Linked DNA regions of Homo sapiens: regions 1 and 2 are each reported to be linked to region 3. Evidence: microRNA targets listed by miRTarBase, many of them from high-throughput screens and not tested one by one. Region 3 holds a microRNA gene; each other region holds the end of a gene's coding sequence. Distances are from middle to middle.

The links. Region 3 holds the annotated microRNA hsa-miR-6727-3p (UCCUGCCACCUCCUCCGCAG, at 4,962-4,981, opposite strand). A microRNA usually pairs through its seed, bases 2 to 8, with sites in the 3' UTR of a target mRNA and lowers its output. Matches are read on the target gene's strand: a 7mer-m8 pairs with bases 2 to 8, a 7mer-A1 pairs with bases 2 to 7 and ends in A, and an 8mer does both.
Region 1: the mRNA of CRTC2 is a reported target of hsa-miR-6727-3p. Seed matches in the 3' UTR shown: 7mer-m8 at 6,261-6,267.
Region 2: the mRNA of SEC22A is a reported target of hsa-miR-6727-3p. Seed matches in the 3' UTR shown: 7mer-A1 at 1,259-1,265 and 7mer-A1 at 2,908-2,914.

Annotation. Positions count from the first base shown.
Region 1 is chr1:153,941,775-153,948,960 of GRCh38, forward strand. CRTC2 (CREB regulated transcription coactivator 2) reads right to left here. Exons shown (of 14, transcript NM_181715.3): 13 at 6,684-6,870; 14 at 5,901-6,555. The coding sequence ends at 6,335. DENND4B (DENN domain containing 4B) reads right to left here and starts at 4,944. Exons shown (of 28, transcript NM_014856.3): 1 at 4,527-4,944; 2 at 2,284-2,623; 3 at 1,104-1,356; 4 at 782-851; 5 at 413-582; 6 at 95-339. The coding sequence starts at 2,600. RefSeq lists enhancers at 3,196-3,295, 3,616-3,665, 4,134-4,634, 5,446-5,515 and a silencer at 4,156-5,055.
Region 2 is chr3:123,270,804-123,277,989 of GRCh38, forward strand. It overlaps SEC22A (SEC22 homolog A, vesicle trafficking protein), which reads left to right. Exons shown (of 7, transcript NM_012430.5): 7 at 719-3,333. The coding sequence ends at 919. Among named protein-coding and RNA genes, the nearest start is that of SEC22A, 72 kb to the left of the region's middle.
Region 3 is chr1:1,307,541-1,314,726 of GRCh38, forward strand. MIR6727 (microRNA 6727) reads right to left here and starts at 5,026; the gene lies at 4,962-5,026. ACAP3 (ArfGAP with coiled-coil, ankyrin repeat and PH domains 3) reads right to left here and starts at 390. Exons shown (of 24, transcript NM_030649.3): 1 at 229-390. The coding sequence starts at 275. It overlaps PUSL1 (pseudouridine synthase like 1), which reads left to right and starts at 1,057. Exons shown (of 8, transcript NM_153339.3): 1 at 1,057-1,180; 2 at 1,375-1,432; 3 at 1,546-1,733; 4 at 1,914-2,063; 5 at 2,141-2,311; 6 at 3,094-3,148; 7 at 3,369-3,531; 8 at 3,790-4,137. The coding sequence starts at 1,104. The coding sequence ends at 3,839. It overlaps INTS11 (integrator complex subunit 11), which reads right to left. Exons shown (of 17, transcript NM_017871.6): 8 at 6,761-6,825; 9 at 6,192-6,381; 10 at 5,969-6,052; 11 at 5,495-5,584; 12 at 5,247-5,409; 13 at 5,053-5,160; 14 at 4,900-4,961; 15 at 4,686-4,828; 16 at 4,478-4,607; 17 at 4,060-4,384. The coding sequence ends at 4,319. RefSeq lists silencers at 209-378, 419-1,098, 1,319-1,388, 1,419-1,558, 1,569-1,698 and 1 more.

The DNA.
Region 1 (7,186 bases), 150 Mb from region 3:
GCCCTCCCCCCACCCACATCTGAATCTCTCCCATCTCTCCTGGCCCCCTTATCCCTTCCTAACCCCTTCCCAATGGCAGAGGAGCCATGCTCACGCTTCCAAGGGTAGGCGGTGGGGGCCTGAGACGGAGTAGCGGTAAAGGAAGGTGAGGAAGGCGCGGAAGGCAGGGAAGGCAGGCCAGCGGGACAGCACAGCGATGGCACGCCGGCTGCGCACAGCTCTGCCCCCCAGTGCCCGACCCCGCTCCACGGCGCTCAGCAGGCCCAGTGCCCGTGCCTGTCGCTCTGATAGCCTGGCCCTTGGGAACGCCTCGTAGAACTGCAGGGCGGCACCATACACCTGGCAGGGGGCAGAAGGGTAGTCAGGCAGGCCCTGCATAGCCTGGACCCCTTGCCACACTCCACACACCCACCTTATCACCAGCTGCACCCGTGAGCACAAAGGTGGAGAAGACGGGCACGGGGTACTTGGTCTGGGCAGGCCAGCACTCGATAGTGGCCCCCATGGGCAGGCAGAAGACGGGCACTGACTCGGGCAGCGGGAACGCCTCATTGTCCTCCTCCGGGTAGCGGCCCAGCAGCTCTGCACCCCCAGCATAGTTGGGGGTACCCAAAAGGAGCAGGGTCCATCAGACTCCAAGGGAAATGAACCAAGGGATCCCAGAGAAGGCCCGAGTAGCAAAGAGAAAGTAAACTCTGGGGACACTTAAGGTGCCTGCCAAGAGGCACCAGGGCAAAGGGATGTAGGGTCACAGGATTGGAGGGATAAAGGGGCCACTCACCTGCCTCGTACACCAGCGTGTTGGCCTTCGCCAGGCCCACCTTATAGCACAGGTACACTGCTGGGCCCCACTACCCCAGAAATGGCAAGAGACAAGCAGATACATAGCTAACAAAGGTTTCTGGGGTCCACTTTCTCTCTACCACCCCTAAATGTTCTTTTGTCTTTAAAGCTCCCATTAATCCCAGTGCCCCAAGACCAGAGTTACCCCTCTGGACTCACCCCTGTGGTCAGAGCCTTGGTCCTGGGATGCCCTTTGTTCCCAGTGTCCACACCCACTCTTACACCAAGAGGACCAGGTGTCAGCTCTTGGCCCCACTCACCATGCCAGGGTTGAGGTTGCGGGGCAGCCGGCAGTAAGTATGAGGAGTGCCCTCGCCCTTACTGGGCAGCACCAGGCAGAGGTCAGTGATGCCCAGGGCATGCAGCCCTGCCCCCTCTGCTGCCCGCCGGTAAGTGAGGTAGGTGCGGGGGTGCCCGGGGCCTGGAGGGGCCAGGTTTGCTGAGTGGCTGTAGGGTGTCGTGTCAAGCACTTGGAAGCCAGGCTTGGGACGTTCCTTCCCCTCATACAACACCCTTGGCACAGAGAGCAAAGATAGATGTTGAGAGGTCAGGGTAGAGGACAAAGACCCAATCCTGCCAGATCTGCCTATCTAATCCCCTGAACTTGCCTTGTACCCACAGCCTTGTCAAACTCTAACACTAGGGCCCACCTCTTCTTGCTGAACTCTGCCCTCCAGAATCCTGTGCCCTTTCTTTGGCCTTTGGCCTTATTTCATGGTCAGCAACAATCCTGCATGCCTTCTATGGCTCTCATACTCATTAATAAACACTAAGGGTCAGCTGGGCACGGTGGCTCATGCCTATAATCCCAGCACTTTGGGAGGCCAAGGCAGGTGGATCACCTGAGGTCAGGGGTTCAGGACCAGCCTGGCCAACATGGTCAAACCCCATCTCTACTAAAAATTCAAAAATTAGCTGGACGTGGTGGCACATGCCTATAGTCTCAGCTACTCAGGAAGCTGAGGCAGGAGAATTGCCTGAACCCAGGAGGCGAAGGTTGCAGTGAGCCAAGATCACACCACTGCACTCCAGCCTGAGTGACAGAGAGAGACTCTGTCTATAAAAAAAAAAAAAAAAAAAAAAATAGTTATACAAGCTACCACTGACTGACTCTGTTAAGTCTGTCACATGGGTTATCTCATTTAATCTCGACCATCCTATGAGGATGAATTATTTTCCCCATTTGACAGATGAGGAAAACAGGCCCAGAGGAGCTCAAAAACCTGCCTAAGCTCTCAGAGCTAGCAAGGAGCAGCACTAGCACATGAAATCGCATCTGTAAGGACTAAGTACATACAACTTCAGTCCTTCCTTCCTGGCCCCTGGCCCACCAGGCTCCCATCCCCATTGCCCTTCCCTTGTTCCATAGTCCTACCTCTCCCTGTCTCACTGGAGTCCCTCCCAGCCTCCCCTGGTGCCAGCATGGGTAGGGGCACACACCCCAGCTCAACGAGGGGGGGCTTGTCACGGCCCCTGCGGTAGCAGATGACGGGTTGAGTTCCACCCAGAAGTCCAGCACTGAGTTCCAAGGGGTGGCCCCCAGCAGAAGCCTGGATGCATGTGTAGCCCTGGGGCACTTCCTCGCCCAGTGCCCTAGCGATGACTGCCACATCTGTGATGGGCTCAGCTGGCCGGGGAGGGCGCAGGGGCCCACTGGGTTCAGGAACCCACGTTTCCTCAGGGATGGGTGCTCCGTTCCCTGCAAGCCCAGCTACCACGAAGTAATCCACCAGCCGGGGGGGCCGCTCCTCCGCCATGGCCCCCCCCTCACTCACTGCATCTGGAATGGTCAAGTGGGAGAGAGATGAAGCAAGGAAGGCTGGGGATGCCATGGCAACCAGGGTACCCTCTTGCTCCCCTCCTCTTCCTAGTCCTTCCAAAGAAAGGCAGGATAAGGGGTCGGCCAATCCTGAACTCTTCCCCCTGTGACATCACTGCCCACCACAGCTTCTTAAAGAGACCAGATCCCTCCCACTTAATGGTCCTGGCACTCCCCTCAAAGAACCTAAACTCCACCACACACAGCTAACCTGAGCTATGACATTCACATTGTCCATGTGTCCCTTTTAAAGGCTCACCAGTTATAACATCACAGAGATCACAATCTTTTTTGTAATAGCCTTCCATGACATCATTCATGCTGGCCATGACATCATACCAACCTTACAGTCTTTTCAAGGGTTTCTGACCTTCCTACTCTAGTTATGACACCATAAGAACCTTGTGATCCTGCCAATGTTCTTAAAGAGCCCACTCCTAGGTTTTTAAGAGGACCCCATGGGTTTCTGAGAAAGCCCACAAAACCCAAGCTTTAAGAGTCTTTTCAACGAACCCAAGTGTCCTTTCTCCTAGCTTAACTCCACCAATCTGGCCCAAAATCCAGTGTTCTCACACCTCCAGGATCCTTAGGTAGCTCGTTAGATCCAAAGCAGTTGTGAGAGACAAGTCCCGGCCATCCCACACCCTCCACCATGGAGCCCAGAGACAGAAACAGGCCCACAACAGCCTAGTTCTCACCTGCCTCCATGGCCCAACCCCGGGGAGTAGGAGCCCCAAGGGTCCTGAGGCGCCCCAGGGTGCAGAAGCTGGGAAAAAGCCTGGTGGGTAGCTCGCAGCAGGGGCCCAGAAGCGTGGGGGGTGCTTCAGAGGGGAAGGGAGGTTACTTCCTGAAACAGTGGAGGGGAAGCTGCAACTCAGAGGAAGTCAGCCTATGGGTGTGTGTGGTGGCGGTGGCGGTGGTGGGGTTACCATTGAAGGTGCCAGCACAGCATTACGCCAAGTTGGAATCTCAGACTATAGGATCCTGAGCAAGGCAGAGGAGGCTCAGAATGGTTCCAGGATGTGCAGTCCTGCTAACCTCCTGCTGTTCCCCCAGAGAACAGGGAATAAGGAATCTCATAGAGCCAGGCTGGCTTTCTTCATCACCTGGCCTCTGGACACACACACACACACACACACGCACACACACACGCACACACGTACACACACCAACCCCAGCTAAATTTAGACTCCACTTCTGGGAGGTAAAGCCAGGAGTCAGCGTCAGCCTCTTGATTTAATTCTGGGGCACAGACCTGTCCCTCATCCACTGAGGGCGAATGGGAGCCCTATGCCCAAGGCAGCAGGCAGAGGCCATTAGGTGGGACCTTCTGAGGGGCAAGTGGGTGGCACCCATCCGCAGGACCTGCGCACCGGGGCCTCCCCTCACCAAGCCAGGGAAGAGTCCTGCAGAAAGCAGCCCTTTCTCCCTAGGGAAGACAACGGGCACAGGGCCCACTCCGGGTCCCCACGCCCGCGTGCCGGGTGACGGGAAGTTCGGGTTGGGGCAGAGGGCGCGCCGAGGGGGAGGAGGCTGAGGAAGGAGCAGGAGGGCAGAGAAGCAGGCGCGCCGGCGGCCGAGGACGTGACGGCAGCAGCGCCGGCCGCCGCGTGACCCAAGCGGGAGGGAGGGCGGCTCCGACTCCGGCACCCACGGGAGCAGAAGGGGGTGCAGGAGGCCGGGCACGGCGAGCTAATTGCGGGAGGTGCCCTCCCCTCCACTTTCACTTCCCCAGGAGAGAGGAACCGGAACCAGATGTGCAGTGAGGGACAGCAGCTGGGGGCCATCCCCCACCCCGCCTGCCGCCCGCGCTCCCTCCTGCCCGTCCCCGCCTGCCGCCCAGCCCGGTCCAGCCCCTACCTGCCTGTCCCGCGCTTCCCGGCCGGCCGGCCCGCTGGCGGGTGGCTCGGAGGGCGAGCTGGCGGGCCGGCGGGCGGCGGGGCTACCCGGCCCCAGACATGGCGCACCCGACTTGGGCGCCGCTCCCGCCCGGGCAGTGAGTGAAGGAAGAAGAGGCGGCCGAGGACCGCAGAGCGCGGGGCGCAGTGGAAGGAGATCCGGGCGGTCCCCGCGTCCCCGCCGCGCTGCGCCACGCGGGGACTGTGCTGCCGCGCTGCTCGCTCGGCCGGCTCGGTCCTCCCAGCTCCCGCGGCGCCGGGGACCCAGCGTTCCTCCGCGCGCCCCGCTTTCTCTACTCCCCCAACCCCCGCTCCGGGCCGCGGGCGCCGCCGCTACCCCCACCCCTCCTCCTCGGCCGGCGGCCGTGACCCTGGCAAGCGTCTGCCCAAAGCCCAGCCGCCTGCAGCCCGACCCCTGGCGGCTGGGAGGGCCCCCTGCACCCAGGTAGCTTCCCACCATCCAGCCCGTGCCTCAGGACACTGACCCCAGGCGACCCAGAGGGCCGCGGCGCGCTCCCTTCCCGCCTGGGTCCTGCAGTCAGATGTGGCAAGCATGATGTGGGCGCAGGTGAAGTCCCGAAGGTCTAGTCTACGGGGACCCAGGTGGCTCCCCCTACTTCCAGGTTTAGGGCACAGGGCATTCCCTTTGGACCAGAACCAGAAGCTCTCAGTTCTCTTTTTTGAAAATGACAAGAGCTTTGGAAAGAGGAAGAGAGGCCAGGACTGCAGGGTGTGGAATAGAGCAGTGGAGGTGGGGGTAAGGTAACTGCGGGGCTCTACTTTTCTCACTATGCGGGTTGGGGGAGTGAGGGGTGCAGAGGCCCACACGGCTGGTCCAAGGGCTGGCAACCCAATCCAGAAAGAGAAAACCTTCAGAACATGCATGGCACTGAAGGATCTGTTTAATTAAAACTAAAATGAATGAGTGGTGAAGAGTGGAGAGGGTGAAGTGAATGCATGCATAGTGAGGGAGTGAGGATGAAGGCTTGCTTCCCTGAGACCTAGGAGCACTTCAGACCTGTGGGCTCAGCCAGCAATCACCTCCTTACCCGACTCACTGCCAGACCTAGGGTTGAGGAAGAGGAATAACTTGTCTGATCAGTCAAAGCCCCCATCTGATGCTGCAGCAGGGCCCTGGACAGACAGGAGGGCACATGAAGTGATTTCCTGCTGCCGTGGAAGCCTACATCCAGCTGGGTACAAATTCCGAGGCTGTGGGGCCCTTCCACAAAGCACAGTGGTGCTAAGAAGATGCAAAAAGCCTAATAGATAAAAAGACCCATGGCCCTATAACTCCCTAGATCCCCAGCCATGCCCCAAATAACTAACCACACCAAGGGTTTGATATGATTTTTTTATTAACATATAATAATATATTTAATAAAAAATAGTATCCACTCTGGCTCTCTCCTCCACTGCAAGGGGAAGAGTGGTGAGGAGGGGCTGGCACTGCCCACCCCTAGGCATCCGGAAAAGCCCTGCTTCCAGGGCTCCCCTCTACCCCTGCTTTCCAACAGGCTCTGACCTCCAGACAGACGGTTCAAAGTTACAAGTGCTTTAGGCCCTCCCTTGAGTTCCCCCAGGCCCATCCCTTGCGCAGAATTCAGGGGCCACCTGGACAAACCCCTTGCTTTTTCTCATTCTTGGCATCCTTCATTCATGCTAGAAAGAGGATCTGGGGACAGAGAGTAGAGTCTCTACCTGCCAGGGGGAAGGGAGGAAAGGAATGGTGGTGGGGGATGGGGCCAAGAAGAGGGATGGTGATGAGGTGCCCTCATTGGAGCCGGTCACTGCGGAATGACTCCTCCACAGCAGGATCAGGCAGCAGGGCACAGGGGTCACTCAGCATGTTTAGCCCTTCCAGGCCCAGTGGCTCCATGCGCAGCTCATCTTCTAGCCCAAGCCCTAGCTCCAATCCAGCTGCTGACACCTCAAAGCCAGGCACTCCGGCCAGGGCTGCTGCAATCTCCTTAGAGAAACCTGGAGAGGAGTCCCCTGTGGGTAGAAGAGACAGGTGAGGACCCCATGTCCTGTAAACTTTTCCAAGACCCCTCAATCTCCTACTCATTAGTGAATGTGTCACTTCCTCCTTCCATTTCCCATCACCACCCACCCCCATTCACCTGTGAGGATGATGTTAGGCCCTGAGCCATGGCGGGAACAGTGGGTCAAGTTCTGGTGGTTGAAGGTGTGGGGATCCTGGGGGCCACCCATTGGCCCCTCACCCCCTAAAAATCCAGGCCCTTCAGAAAAGCCAGGGGGATCCAGCACCAGGCTGGCTGATGGGCTCTCCATGCTGAACTGCTCCAGCTATAGACATACAGACAAATCTTTAGGAAGTAGGATTTAGAACTGGTGTCCTGCCTAGCCCTGCTAACATATCCCCTTTGCCCAGCAACCTTCATCCACCCCAGGAACAGAGGCAATGACAGAGGGAGGTGGCAGCAAGCAGAGCGACAGAAGCGAGCACGGGGCCCGAAGTAAGTATGGGCACCGTACCTGCTGGGCCAGAGCATGTGCATGCCAGGAAGAGAACGGGTCAAGGCAGAAGTCATCAAAGAGCAAGCTGAGCAGAAATAGAGGGGCAGGAGTAGGGTCAAACGCAGGAAGAGAGGAGCCCCAAGCT
Region 2 (7,186 bases), not on the chromosome of region 3:
ACTATCATTCTTACTCCCTATCCCTTTTTCCTGCTTTCTCTTTTTCAAGACATAACTGTTTGATATTATATATTTAAAATACATTTATAATTCTTCCCCATTAAAATTTAATATTTATATGAACAAGGGCTTTGTTTTACTTACAACTGAAGAACAATGCCTGACTTGTAGCAGGCCCTGAGTAAATATTTGTTGAATGAATTCTCCCTCAAATGTTCAGTCAGATGCTGTACCTAGCATAGTTCCTTGTACTCAGTGGGCGACTAGTAAAATGTTGTGGATTTTGTTAATACTCAGACTCAGGTTATATTAAGAGTCCATTTTGTAGAATAGCTTGTATGTGCTTTTTTGTATTTTCCTGGGTGAGAATGGAACACCCGCAGACCCTGGGAATGCTTCTTAGTTGCCTGTCACCATGGGGAATTTGCTCAGCCTGTTTGCAAGGAAGTCATTCCATTGTACTTCCATTTAAAATATGATACAAAATGCTTTTCTTCTGAAAAATGAAAAACTTAAGAGGAAAATCTATTTCCCTTTCAAACTGTGAAACTTTCATAGCTGAATGTCTTAGATATATGCTACATTATCTTATCCCTAGATAAAAAATAACCTTATCCATTCTTATATTTTACTCTCTGACCTGTTACAATTTTATATTAGAAACATCTGTTTCTTTTCCTGTAACCCTAATCATCTTTCATTTTTATATTTTGAACAGTGTTATTTACTTGTCTACTACACCGGCTGGCGGAATGTCAAATCTTTTTTGACTTTTGGCTTAATCTGTCTATGCAACATGTATCTCTATGAACTGCGCAACCTCTGGCAGCTTTTCTTTCATGTGACTGTGGGAGCATTTGTTACACTACAGATCTGGCTAAGGCAAGCCCAGGGCAAGGCTCCCGATTATGATGTCTGACACCATCCTTCAGATCTATTGCCTTGGCTTCAGGGGGATAAGGAGGGAACATATCATAACTGCACTGTGATGAAGAAGCTGTTCCCCACAGAGGAGAAGCTCTGCTTTCTTTCTCTCCAACTTTCCTTTTTTAAAATCAGCATGATGTGCCTGTGAGCATGGAAGAGTCCTCTCAGAAGAATGTTGGCCATGAGACTATCATTCAGAGGAGGAGGGGATTTCTCTCTTCAAGGCCGTAACAGTGGAAGAACAGTCATATGCCATTGGAAGTCTTGGCCAGCAGTCCTGAATCCTTCCTGAAGAGTTCAGAAAATAGATGTGGTATTGCTCTGAGGACCAGGCAGGAGGAACTCTACAACCTGAGTTTGCCTTTGTGAGGCATTAGTATAGACCAAATAAAAAGCTGCAGAAATTGGAAAGTTTATGTTTTAAATAAATGACTGTGATAAATATCAGATTATTTGCACACTTATGGTACTACGAGTTTATAAAGTCCAAGATGGTGTGAAATTGGTTCTTTTTACTTTTATATTTTTGCTTGAATCTTAACTCTGGAAATCACCTGATGTAGAAGAAGACTGTGATGAGCTCGTCTGTGGAACATCACAAGTATCGAAAATACAGTAATGGATGTTTCCTTTCTAATCCACATTTATTGTTTCTTTTGAAATCACGTCTAAAAAATATGACTCACACTATAGCCGTTGTTTCCCAAACTTCAGTCTCTTTAGTACTACTTGTATTATTTTCTTAATATTTATCTTTTAAATTTTAAAGTTTTTTTAAAAAAATGAATCCTGCTCCAAGTGGAAAACCAGTATCAGTTTGCCATAAATAAAAGGTAACCACAAAATAAGTAAGATGAACACAAAAAATGTTGTTCAGTTCTAGCTAGAAACTAATGCCTAGAAAGGCTCCGAATCTTAGGCTCTTTCTTTGTGGCAGTGAGGGAGATGTTACCAGCACCAGCATGAGGCACTGTCTCTGGAATAGTCAGAGGATAAAAGGAAACTGTAAAGGGAATGACATTCTCACTGTGATTCAGCATTATTCTATGTTGTGCATCACTTAAAGACATGTTGTGTGCCACCAGTGGCATGGGTCCGCACTATGGAAATGCTTGACTGTAGTAAGAATCAGAAGGTGGCTTTCCTAGCAACTCATTATTTTATGGCTTTGAGGAATTAAGCCCCTAGTATCTGAGAGAACTTACTTGTTTTTTGATAACGTTTTAAAGATTGTTTAAGCAGTTATGAATTAATAATATAGGAAGCACAGTTGGATTCCACTAGCAAAATCTATAACTCTCATGGTTTTGGAAGTCATCTTCATGGGTGATTTTCCTTTGTTTTTTAAAGAAAATATTTCAAACAAGGAATTCATAGGATACTGAAATTTGATATCATCCAGAAAAACAGATCCCATTACATTGTAATTGTTGTTACTAGGCATATTTATTAAGTAGAGAAATAGAGGGTAAAAAGTTAGTGAACTGTCTTGTTTGCGTGAACCAGTATTTGTGGATATGTCTAGAACTGTAAAATCTTGCTTAACTAGAACCTTAGTCTGCACCCTCCTTTTAGGAGAATGAGGTAAAAGGAAGACAATAAGCTTATGATATCAGGGATTCATGTAAAACAGGAAATAGTAGTTGGCTCCAGTCTTCTCCTCTAACAAAAGTATGCATATTCTGAGAGATACCCCAAGGCATCACAAGATCCTGAATCATCAAAACACCATTGAATTGTGTTGGGCATTTTGTAGCCAGGAAAGTGAAGTGGTTCAATTTAGAAAGGGTTTCAGGCCAGGCACGGTGACTCAGGCCTGTAATCCCAGCACTTTGGGAGGCCGAGACAGGCAGATCACTTGAGACCAGTAGTTTGAGAATCAGCCTGGCCAACGTGGTGAAACCTCATCTCTACTAAAAATACAAAATTTAGCTGGGTGTGGTTGCGCGTGCCTTTAGTCCCAGCTACTCGGGAGGCTGAGGCAGGAGAATCGCTTGAACCCAGGAGGTGGAAGTTGGCAGTGAGCCAAGATCACGCCACTGTACTCCAGCCTGGCCAACAGAGCGAGACTCTGTCTCAAAAAAGAAAGGTTTTCTAAACTAATGGTTAAAACAGAATTTTCTTGTAAATAGGGAAGTTGGAGCATTCTGGTTGAGATTTTGCTCTGTATTGACACAGCTCGCACCAGTTTGGTTCAGGAGCTACCTCCTTGTCATTGAATTGACGAGTTACAATGTTTGGTATTCGGATACATTCAGCAAGAACACTTGAAAACTCCTCACCAACTATTTTTAAAGGCTTACTTTGTTTTTGTTTTTATTTTTTCACTGGCTATTTTGGATAAGAGGATGTTTACATCTTAATGTAAAAAAATGAAAACAGGTATAAATGTTTTATGTATAGAAATGTTTTCTTTCATTATTTGGTGCCTGTATCTCCGTGTTTATATCATTTCCCCACCTGTATCATTGCTGCCAAAAAAAGAACTTTGAATTTAGAAAAAGAAATTGGTGTAAAGTCCTGGCCGGGCACGGTGGCTCATGCCTGTAATCCCAGCACTTTGGGAGCTCAAGGTGGGTGGATCACGAGGTCAGGAGTTTGAGACCAGCCTGGTCAACATAGTGAAACCCCGTCTCTACTAAAAATACCAAAAAAAATAAGCTGGGCGTGGTGGCAGGCGCCTATAGTACCAGCTGCTTGGGAGGCTGAGGCAGGAGAATCGCTTGAATCCAGGAGGCGGAGGTTGCAGTGAGCCGAGATCACACCACTGCACTCCAGCCTGGGTGACGGAGTGAGACTCTGTCTCAAAAAAAAAAAAAAGTCCTTAGGCTCTTTAGAAAGAATCACTTTAGGCCTCCATGGTGTATGATCTTCTGTTTCTATTGCACTTCTAAGAGCAAGCCTGAGTTTACCTCCTCATAGTTTTGTAGCATAGGAGCAGTAGTAGCTGCCCTCACTCTAAGGGGGAGGACACAGAGGTGATCAGATGGTAATGACTTAGCCAGTTCACATAGCTAAGCACACACAACCCTGATCTAGTGCAGGGCTCTTCGCACTAGCATGGAACTAGTGAAGGTGACCAGTGTTATATTCAGGGAATATGACTGTTCTTGGTAAAGCCAAGGAGTTGAGGGGTTCTGAAATTGGTGAGTCCAGGCCTGCTGCTGGAGTATTTTATCCTAATAGGTGTATTTTATTTTAATTTAGATAATTCCTAAATACTGCTTTTTGATTAAGGTGTACCATGAGAGCGAAGATACCCTCTTTTATATACTAAGATAATTGCAATATTTGCTTGCTTTTTTCAGTCTGTATTTGAAATATATTTACATTAATACCTGGCCTCTTTCCCAAAAGCACTTGAAGCAGCATACCAAGAAAAGACATATACAGCCATGTTAATGAAATATGAACAGAAAGGGAAGAAAAACAAATGAAAATTGAAGGGAGGGTTTACATACATTATTGTATGTAAAATTTGACTCTGGAACTTTCTGGAAATCAAGGCTAAGGGTAGGGAAAGAAGTTATGCACTGCCCTATCAGTAGGTGAAAAGCATACCAGTTCCTTAGGGGAGAGCCTTTCCTGATGCCTTCTAGTAAAGGTGTTCTCACTGGGGGTCCTGTGAAGTGCTAAAATGAACAGAATTCTCGATTTTCACACATTTACATGTTATGATTGTGCCTTGGATCCTTACCTTGTACCAGCTTTCAAAGGCTTCCATTTCAGGATTTGGGGGGATTTGTGTAGGTGTGGTTAATAAAGGATTTTGTTTTCATAGGTAAGAATCCTAAGCTGAAAACAAGTATTAAGCTTGAAAATCATTTGAGACAAATGCCTTAAGACATGGAGAACCTTTACCCAATTCTGTATTACAGAATTATAAGATTGAAAGTGAGTGTGCTATCCTTGGATTGGCACATTTATATTGCAGTAAATGTCTCCACAGTGGAATCTAGTGTGGAGAGATGGACAGCTCCATTTCTGTTAGGCCACGTGTGGAACCCCATTAGACTCCTACTTCATCAGGGCTCCACAGAGACCAGAAGTTTGTCATAAAGGACCTAACCTCCGTGGCTTCTGAGGTCAGCTGCTCCCCTAAAAGGCAATTGCTTGGCCTTCATTTCAAAAGGTTTACTAAGTGACCTAAGGTCATACTCTGAGCTGTTGGGTTTCCAAGGAACTCAACAAAGGTTGTGTGTGTGTGTACACCTTCCTTGTTACTATTTTAACAGACTTTTGGCTCACTGTAAGAGTTAGAACTTCTGTGGAGTGTGTGGTAAAAGAACACATACGTTCAAGAGCAGCCACCACTCAAAACCTCATTGAACACTTAGCCTTAACCACAAGTTATAGGTCACTCTTTAGGGCCACATTCTTTGTCTGTGTTCAATGCTTTATAGTATTTTTCTGCCTTATCTCTAAGGAACCAAAGTCTTTCTCCCTAAAAATGCTGTGGTAAAGTAAGGTCTGATTTTAGGGTTAAATTGGCTTTAGTAATAACCTCGCTAAAAGTTAACAAAAGAAACCCAGCTCCAAGGGTTGTGACTGAGTTTGTGTAAAAGGGCTGAGTGAGCCGAGAATGTCACTCTGAGCATTACCGGTAAGGTTGGAGGTGTGTGATCATTAATGTTCTGGGGCTGCTGTTGAATGCTGGCAGATTGCGGCCTCCTGTTTAAGCATCGAGTTTTTCAAAGAGAAAAACTGGCTGCCACTCTTGTCTCTTTCTTGAGTGGCTGAGTTTTCTAGGTTATTTAGTAGATGAAATCAAAAGAAACGTGGAAACACTGTGTGGTTGGAAGCCACGTGGCGCATATGCTCCTGCTTGTTAACAGTGAGTGGTGTTGATGCGTGGGCATTCAGGTTTCTTCTGCGTTGGCAATGCTGATGTGTAATCAGTCGTCTCAGCACAATTGGGGGTTTTAGGAAACTCAGAGATCAGCCTTAGTTCTCAGAGTTTTTGAAATCAATATCCTAGCCTTATGAATTGTTCCTTGTGTTTCCTTGGCAACAAACAGTATTTTCAGCCCAAACCCACCCACGGTTTACATTCACCCCTTTCTCCTGCATCTCACAGCACAGCCATACAAGCATCACCCAACAGAAAGCACATTCAGGCACCATCTGACAACGGGAAGCAGGACTCAGGCATTCCACTCCCCATTTGTTCCTGGTGTCCCCTCCCCAGCTCTGCCTTGCTTGCTTACCTTCTTTGTGCCAGCACTTTTCTTTGAGGTTGGGTTGCAAAGGACCTTGCCTAAAGATGAACAAAGTATTTCATTCTTGCACTTTGAATCTCTCCAGTGCCTAGGACTAATGAGGAGAATGCTTGTTAGCTCATTTTGTGGGCCAGTGCTGGGTTCTCCTTAGTTCATCCTTATGGCAGCATGAGGTGGAGCGGGCACGATCTCATTTGCATTTGAGGAAACCAAGACTCAGGCCAGGAACTTGTCTTCGTATGGTATGACACTTGGTGGTGGATGTGAAGTTCAAATTTGGAGTTGGGTTTAAGTCGCTTGAAAGTTGGTGCTCATTTTTCTGTGCCACAGTGCATCTCAGAAAGACACTTCTTAGGGAATGTGTGTGTGACTGACGACAGCTGGGTTCTTACTGTTTTAGCAGCAGTGTGAACAGATGAAGCAGACAGGAAGGGGGAAATGGCAATGTATACTGTGTGACAGGCACTATGCTAAGCATCTCATCTTTACCGAAAGCATTTATGAAGGTTTTCTCTTTTAAAAATGAGCCACCTGGGCCATGAAGAAGTTAAGTGACTTGACCACAGTCACAACCTAACCCATGTGGTAGCATCAGGATTTCAGTCCAGATCTGACTCAGAACTCATGCTCTTAACCACCATGTGATTTTAAGCTGGATAACATGGAAATACGTTTAAATATATAAGGAATATATGTAAAGGTAATATACATTACTTTTAAATAAGACATCAGGTCAGTGCTAACTCCTACAGTATAGATGTCCCAGGTTGAATAAAATAGTTTCCTAAAATCTCTACATTTATAACAATGACATAGGACAGACAGGTGGCTGCAAGATGTATGGTGAAGCTTATGTATACCTTAGCTATTAGGGCAAGAAGTATACATTTTAGTACTTGTACTAAAACTAACATATAAATTAATCTTGATGTGGAAAATAAAAGCATTATTGGTGATTTGGGTGTTACAAACATTTGCTTTTCCTAGCAAAATGCCAGAATAGGTTGATTCTTTGACTTGATGTCATTTAATGGGAATTC
Region 3 (7,186 bases):
ACGCGCACGCCCTCCACCCGGGGCGGCCGCACAGGGCAGGAGCGTCTTTTGTTCCAACCCCCGGGGCATGGCGGGGCGGGGCCGCCGCTTTGTCCGAGGCCGGTCCTCCAGCCCCTCCCCGGCGGCCGCGGCCCGGCCCGGCGCTGACCTCCCCACCCCGCCGCCGGGCACAAAGGCGACAGCGACGCCCCCGGCCTGCGCCCACCCCGGCGGCCCCGGGCGGCGCACCTGAAGCGCGGGGAGTCCTTGACGCACTCCTCGAACTCCACGGTCATGGCTGCGGCGGCCGCGGCGCTCACTGGCACGAGGACCGCGGCGCCGAGCGGCAGCCGCGCCGGCCCGGACCGCTCGTCCCGCCCGCGCCGCCTCGGCGCCCGCCCGCCCCGGAATGAGGCCGCCGCGCCGCGCCCCGCCCCGCCTGTCACCGCCGGGGAGCGTCGCCAAAGTCAGCCGCCCGCGCGCACCGCCCGCTGTCACTGCCGGGGAGCGTCGCCAAGGTCCGCCGCCCGCGCGCGCCGCCCGCTGTCACCGCCGGGGAGCGTCGCCAAACGCCTCTCGCAGCGTCCAGGGACCACCCCGGTCCGGAAGTGAGGCGGGGCCTGCCACGGCCGTCTCCGGGGACAGTCGGTGGAAATGTGGGGCGCGGGGAGGGCGCGGGGAGGGCGCGGGCCCGCCCGCTCCAACCATCCCGGCCGTTGCGCAACTCAGGGCGTTTGCAAAAACCACGTCTGGGAGGACTTGGCCGCAACGCGGCGAACGGGCGCGCTCGGGGAGTGTGGGCGGCGGCGAATGAATGAGCGAGTGAACGAATGCACGCCCGCGAGAGCGCGGGGTGACCGCGTGGTTGGTGCGCGCCTCCCGGGGCGCCGCGATAGAGGTAGAGCGCCTGCGCTCGGCGGCGGGCCGGCACTTTGCAGCCGCTCCCTAAGCCCGGCCCCGCCTCCGCTCCCCGACTCTGGCCGCCGTGGCGCGGTGCCACCGCGCAGGCGCAAGAGCGGCCGGGGCCGGGGGGGAGGGGGGGGGGGCGTGACCAGGCCGCGTCCGCGCGCGCGCAGGATTCCTGCGCTGGAGGCCGCCTCTGACGCCACCGGCTGGGCTCCGCCATGAGTTCGGCGCCGGCCTCAGGCTCCGTGCGCGCGCGCTATCTTGTGTACTTCCAGTACGTGGGCACCGACTTTAAGTAGGTTTCCCAGGCGCAGCGGCGGGCGCCACGTGGGCCCGGGCGGAGGCGGGAAGGAGGGCGCGGGCGGGCAGGCGGATGTCTCTGGACGCGGGTTCCAAACGTTCGGGGAAGGAAGCGGCCCTGGCCTCAGACGGCGGCGGAGACCCCAGGGCAGGGCGCCCCCGGTAACCTCCGCCCGCTTCTGCCCGCAGCGGGGTCGCGGCCGTCAGGGGCACTCAGCGCGCCGTCGGGGTCCAGAACTACCTGGAGGTGCGCTCAGCCGGTCACGGGACGCCCGGTGAGGGGTAAGGGGGAGGCTCCCGCCCGCGCGTCCCCGGGGTCCGGCCTCGCTCACCCGCCCGCCCCGCGGCTCGGTCCTGCAGGAGGCCGCCGAGCGGCTGAATTCCGTGGAGCCGGTCAGGTTCACCATCTCCAGCCGCACGGACGCCGGGGTCCACGCCCTGAGCAACGCGGCGCACCTGGACGTCCAGCGCCGCTCAGGCCGGCCGCCCTTCCCGCCCGAGGTCCTGGCCGAGGCCCTCAACACACACCTGCGGCACCCGGCCATCAGGTGAGCCCGCGACCTAAGCAGCCCTGGGGCTGTGCCTTCCCGACTCCATCTGTCGCGGGCGGAGGCTGGAGATCTGGACAGACTTCCTTGTCTGGTCGGAGCTCGAGGGGGAAGGAGAGCCAATGTGACACCGCGGGCGGGCGGGGTCGTTCCTCCGGTGAGCTTTACCTGCCGCCATAGGGTCCTGCGGGCCTTCCGAGTGCCCAGCGACTTCCACGCTCGTCACGCAGCCACGTCCCGGACCTACCTGTACCGCCTGGCCACTGGCTGTCACCGGCGTGATGAGCTGCCGGTGTTTGAACGCAACCTATGCTGGACTCTCCCGGCAGAGTGAGTGTGGCCCTGACAGCGGGGAGGGGGCGGGCAGGCCGGCCCCACCCTCCTGACGGTCACCCTGGTCCCTGAAGCTGCCTGGATATGGTCGCCATGCAGGAAGCCGCCCAGCACCTCCTCGGCACACACGACTTCAGCGCCTTCCAGTCCGCTGGCAGCCCGGTGCCGAGCCCCGTGCGAACGCTGCGCCGGGTCTCCGTTTCCCCAGGCCAAGCCAGCCCCTTGGTCACCCCCGAGGAGAGCAGGTGAGGAAGGGCCCCTGGGCTGTGGCCCTGCCCTCAAGTCACGTGCTGATTTTAGCTCCAGCACCTCCCCCAGTTTTAAGGCAAGGTGAGGCGGGAGGCAGGCAGCCGGGAGTCCTCAGGACCTGGACAGCTGGAGGGGATTCGCCCGGACGCCCCCCAGCCTCCAGCTGTGCCCTCCCCCCAGGCTGGGGAGCGGAGAACAGGGAAGGCTGCTTGTCTCTGAAAAACCCCTGCCATGCCTGATGGAAGAATGTTGGCAGCTACTGGAAAGGTCTCACTGGTGCCAGTGGTTCTGGTGGGGTGGTTTCTGCTGCCCCCAGCACTGTCCCGAGGGCCACCCACCAGGTGGCAGCTTCTGACCAGAACCTCCCCTATTGGGGTGAGCCCTGAAGGGGGGAAGAACTTCTGCCAGCCCCAGACTTCTGTGGCAGAGCAGCAGGTACAGGACTGGGGGTCTCTGGCACCCGCACCAGCCACGTTCCCAGACCCTGCACCAGGACCCTAGGTGAGGGCCCAGGGCAAGCCCCTCTGGGATGGCCAGGCTACCTGCCCAGCCTCCAGGGTCCTGCTGCCTCCTTGCCCAAGCATTGTTTCTCTGGTTTTAAGCCCCTCCAATGGGCCTCACTGGGGGCAGGAGATCAGCCAGGGCCCCTGGTGGCCAAGCTAGTGGGAACCAGGCTCGTCTTTAGGCCCACCCTGTCACTCTCCCGTCCAAGGCCACATAGTAGGCTGAGGATGGCAAACACTGCCCCACAGACACCTACAGGTACGTATTTTTCCAGGAAGCTGCGGTTCTGGAACCTGGAGTTTGAGAGCCAGTCTTTCCTGTATAGACAGGTAGGCTCTGTTCTGGGGCCGTCCCCAGGGGGTGGGGCTGAGGGTGGGCAGGCCCCTGTGCAGTCTTGGCTCTGGGTCGTGGGCGGCTCTGGGTCACAGGTACGGAGGATGACGGCTGTGCTGGTGGGTCACGGGCGGCTCTGGGTCACAGGTACGGAGGATGACGGCTGTGCTGGTGGGTCACGGGCGGCTCTGGGTCACAGGTGGCTCTGGGTCACAGGTACGGAGGATGACGGCTGTGCTGGTGGCCGTGGGGCTGGGGGCTTTGGCACCTGCCCAGGTGAAGACGATTCTGGAGAGCCAAGATCCCCTGGGCAAGCACCAGACACGTGTAGCCCCAGCCCACGGCTTATTCCTCAAGTCAGTGCTGTACGGGAACCTCGGTAAGAAAAACAGGCACGAGAAGCTCCTGTCATGTGCCCAGTGACTACTGTGGCCGAGGCATGGGGTGGGGGGCCAGGGGCCACTGACGGCAGCAACTGGGGGTGAAGCAGCCCCCCGCCCAGGGCTGCAGTCCCTCAGGCCAGCCCGTAGCCCGTCCTGGGCTGGCCCACTCCCTGGTCATGGGAGTGGTCTCAGCGGTGGGGAGGGTGCTGGGCCGGTCTTGCCCCAGGCTGACGCAGGGTCTGGTCCGTCCACAGGTGCTGCCTCCTGCACCCTGCAGGGGCCACAGTTCGGGAGCCACGGATGACCCTGGACACTCAAGCCAAAGTTAGGCCACACCAGGCCCAACCCTGTGCTGGTCAAGCCAGGGCAGTCACAGCTGCTTGGGGCCCACAGCACTGCTGCCTGGTCTCCACAGTAGCCTCCCTGCCCGGGTCCCAGCACCCTGGATGCCCGTCTCTGTCCCAGGCGGGATGGGGCACAGTGCAGGACACAGCCATGTACACCAAGAAGAGAGTACCAAGTAGTCTTTTGTTCAGCTTTTACTGGAAACTGCTGTCTAGGACCACCTGCCCTAACCAGGAATAAAGGCAAGACAGCCTGGAGACCAGTTTGTTTCTTCAGCTGCAAACAGCTGCCTGGGCAGGCAGGTGACACAAGGCCTCTGTCCCCAGGGATGGGACCTGCAGGGTCTGTTCACCCAGGGCACCCACAGTCCTGAAGTGCAGGCCCAGGGTCTGTCCAGCTGGGAGAGGGCAGAGGTGGCGGCTGGGTGAGTTGCCGGCCTCAGCTGGGGGCCTGGGGGAGGCCCTTCTTCAGCAGAGATGTGAGGAAGCTCCCCAGCTCCTCGTCCTAGGGCAGAGGCAAAAGCATTGTGGGTGGTGCAGGACAGGGAGGAATGTTGATACCTGTGTTGACCGCGGTGGGGTGGGGGTCACCCCTTACCTGGTAGGTCCAGGAGACCAGCAGCACCTTGGTGCCTGGGTCCTCAGAAGGGGCGGCGGCCTGGAGGAGGACGGACTCCACAGTCACAGAGCCGTCTGGGAGGTGCTGCACACAGTGGTCCTTCAGGACGCTGTGGGGAGGCTCGGTGAGACCCTGCCTGGCCTCCAGGGCCCAAGGGAGTGGGGGGGGGGCGGGGCCGGGCGCCCACCTCTTGAGGTGGCTGTAGACGCGCAATGCCGTCTCCTGCTCCTTGCGTGTGTCATGCAGGTGCACGCGGCAGGTGAAGCGCAGCTGGTGCTCAGCCAGACCCAGCTCTTTGAGGGCTTGCTCTGAGGACACCAGCCGGAAGTTCTGTGGGGCAGGGACAGGTCAGTGAGCGCAGCAGCGGCCCTCCCCCCTCCAGAGACCGTCCTGGCACTCACGCTGTCCTTCATGATCAGGGTGCCGTGCAGGAGCCGAGGCTTCTTGGCCTCAGGGAGCAGCCCTGCGGAGGAGGTGGCAGGAGCCATCAATGTGAGGGCCGCTCCCAGCCGCCTGCCCCGAGCACCCTGCCCTGCCCTGCCCAGCCCGCATACCCTGCGCCATCTCCCGCTTCAGCAGCCCCAGCGAGATGCCTACGGGGATGCTGGGGCTTGTGGGCAGCGTCACCGTCTCGCCATTGGCCGGCATGTAGCAGTTGACCCCTGGACCCCGGGGGAAGAGAGAGCCTCAGCCCAGGCTGCCCGTGCTGACCCGAGGTGGGCCCCACGCCGCCCGCCCGGCTGCCTACGGAGCTCCTGCTCGATCTTCTGCTTCAGGAACTCCATCTTCTTGGCCTCGCCATGCACCAGCAGCACGCTCTCCGGCTCTGCCTGGCCCACCAGCTGCATGATGCCCTTGGCGTCCGCGTGTGCGCTGAATGACATGTACTCCACCTGCATCTTGACCTCCAGCTACAGAGGCCACGGGGCGTGGACAGTGGTTACCACCAGGAGGTGCCCCTCGGCCCTGCCAGCCCAGTGCGGGGTCGAGACTCACCACCTGCCGCCCCTCCATCTCGAGCTTCCGCTGCCCGCTGAGGATCTTGTGGCCGACGGTGCCCTGCACGCAGTAGCCGGGCATGATGACCTGGGGGCAGGCACAGAGCTCACAGCCAGGGAACTCCAGCCTTGGCACCTCAAGGCCTTGCCCGGGATGCCCCCGCCTGAACCCCTGGAAGCTGTTTCCACCTGCCAGCGGCGCCCGACCAAGCCTAGCTGCAGACTCCAAAGGGCTCAGGTTTTGGCACAAGACTGTCCAGGGCTGGGCTGGGGCTGTTCTGCCCGAGGTGGACAAGCTGTGTCACAGAGACTGAGCAGCTCCAGGCGGACATCGCCCCCGTTCCCCAGCAGCAGCAGCCACGTCCCTTGGCCAGCACGAGGCCAAGCCAGTGAGAGCTCAGAGACAGCATGGGTGGAAGGACAACCCGTCGGCCTCCAGCTTCCAGATTCCCACACCTCACCATGCCCTCACCATGTTCTTTTCGTTTCCGGCCCATTTCCGGAAGATCTGCAGGGACTGCCCAGCGTGCAGCATTCCTGGCGTGGCAAACACAACCTACAGGACACACAGGGCCAGGTGGGGGGTCAGGGCAGCAGATGCCCCCACCCCCACTGCAGGCCCAAGCCCAGACACCTGCGGAAGACAGGAGACCGACGGGTGTGGATGTGCTGGCCGGCCCTGCCGCGGGCCTCACCATCGGTCCTGGGTTGTCAGCAAAAGCCCGGTCGAAGGCCTTGATGTGCTTGAACTCAAACATGTTCCTCTGCACGAAAGTCTTGCGGATCTTCTGGTTGGTCCAGGGGATGAACAGCTTGTAGTAGTGGTTGGCCTTCTCGGTCAGCCCCGTGGAGAAGTAGATGGGCACCTTCAGGTTCATGCGCTCCCTGGGGACCACCGGCCCAGTCAGCACAGTGGCCACAGGGGAGAATGCTGCAGGGCAGGACTCGGCCGGGTCACCCCCAACACCCGTGTCTGCACAGCCCACGCACGGGCCAGGTTGAGTCCAGTCGCGACCACTTGTCCCATTAAGCCCTGCAGCAGCCGGGCTCAGCGGAGAACCAGGAACCCCTACAAGAGCCGCACACGGTGGCGCTGACGGGATGTCACAGGCTTCCTGGGGTCACACAGCACACGAGCGGCCCCCCAGGACAGCAGCAAGCAGGGCCAAGATGCCACCGCTACGCTGGACAGGGCTGCCCACCAACTGGACTGTGTTCAGGCCGGGCCAGGGGCTCCTTAAAGAGCCGTCCTGGCGGCACCTACCAGAAGGTCTCCAGGAGGATGCAGAGCTCCTGGGCGCGGCCCAGCGCGAACACAGGTATCAGCACCTGAGGGGGACACAAGGCAGGAGCCCTGGGCACATGGCCCCTCGACACAGCAGGCAGCGTCCAGTGAGGGCACGGCCAGGTGCCCAAGAGCTGCGGCCTCATAGGGACCTTAGCCTCTCATCTGCTCCCAGTCCCGTCCCAGCCGCTCTCCAGAGACAGAAGGGAGCCGTATGAGAGACAGGAGGGAGCCGCATGAGAGACAGAAGGGAGCTGCATGAGAGACAGAAGGAGCCTGGCCAGGGCTTCGTCCGCACCTGAGGTAGGAGGGAAAAGGGGCTCCCTAGGAAAGGGTCTCTGAGTTTTCCTCCTCAATGTTGAGCAAATCTTCTTCCCTCCCTGCCTGAAAATGCAGTACCCCCCA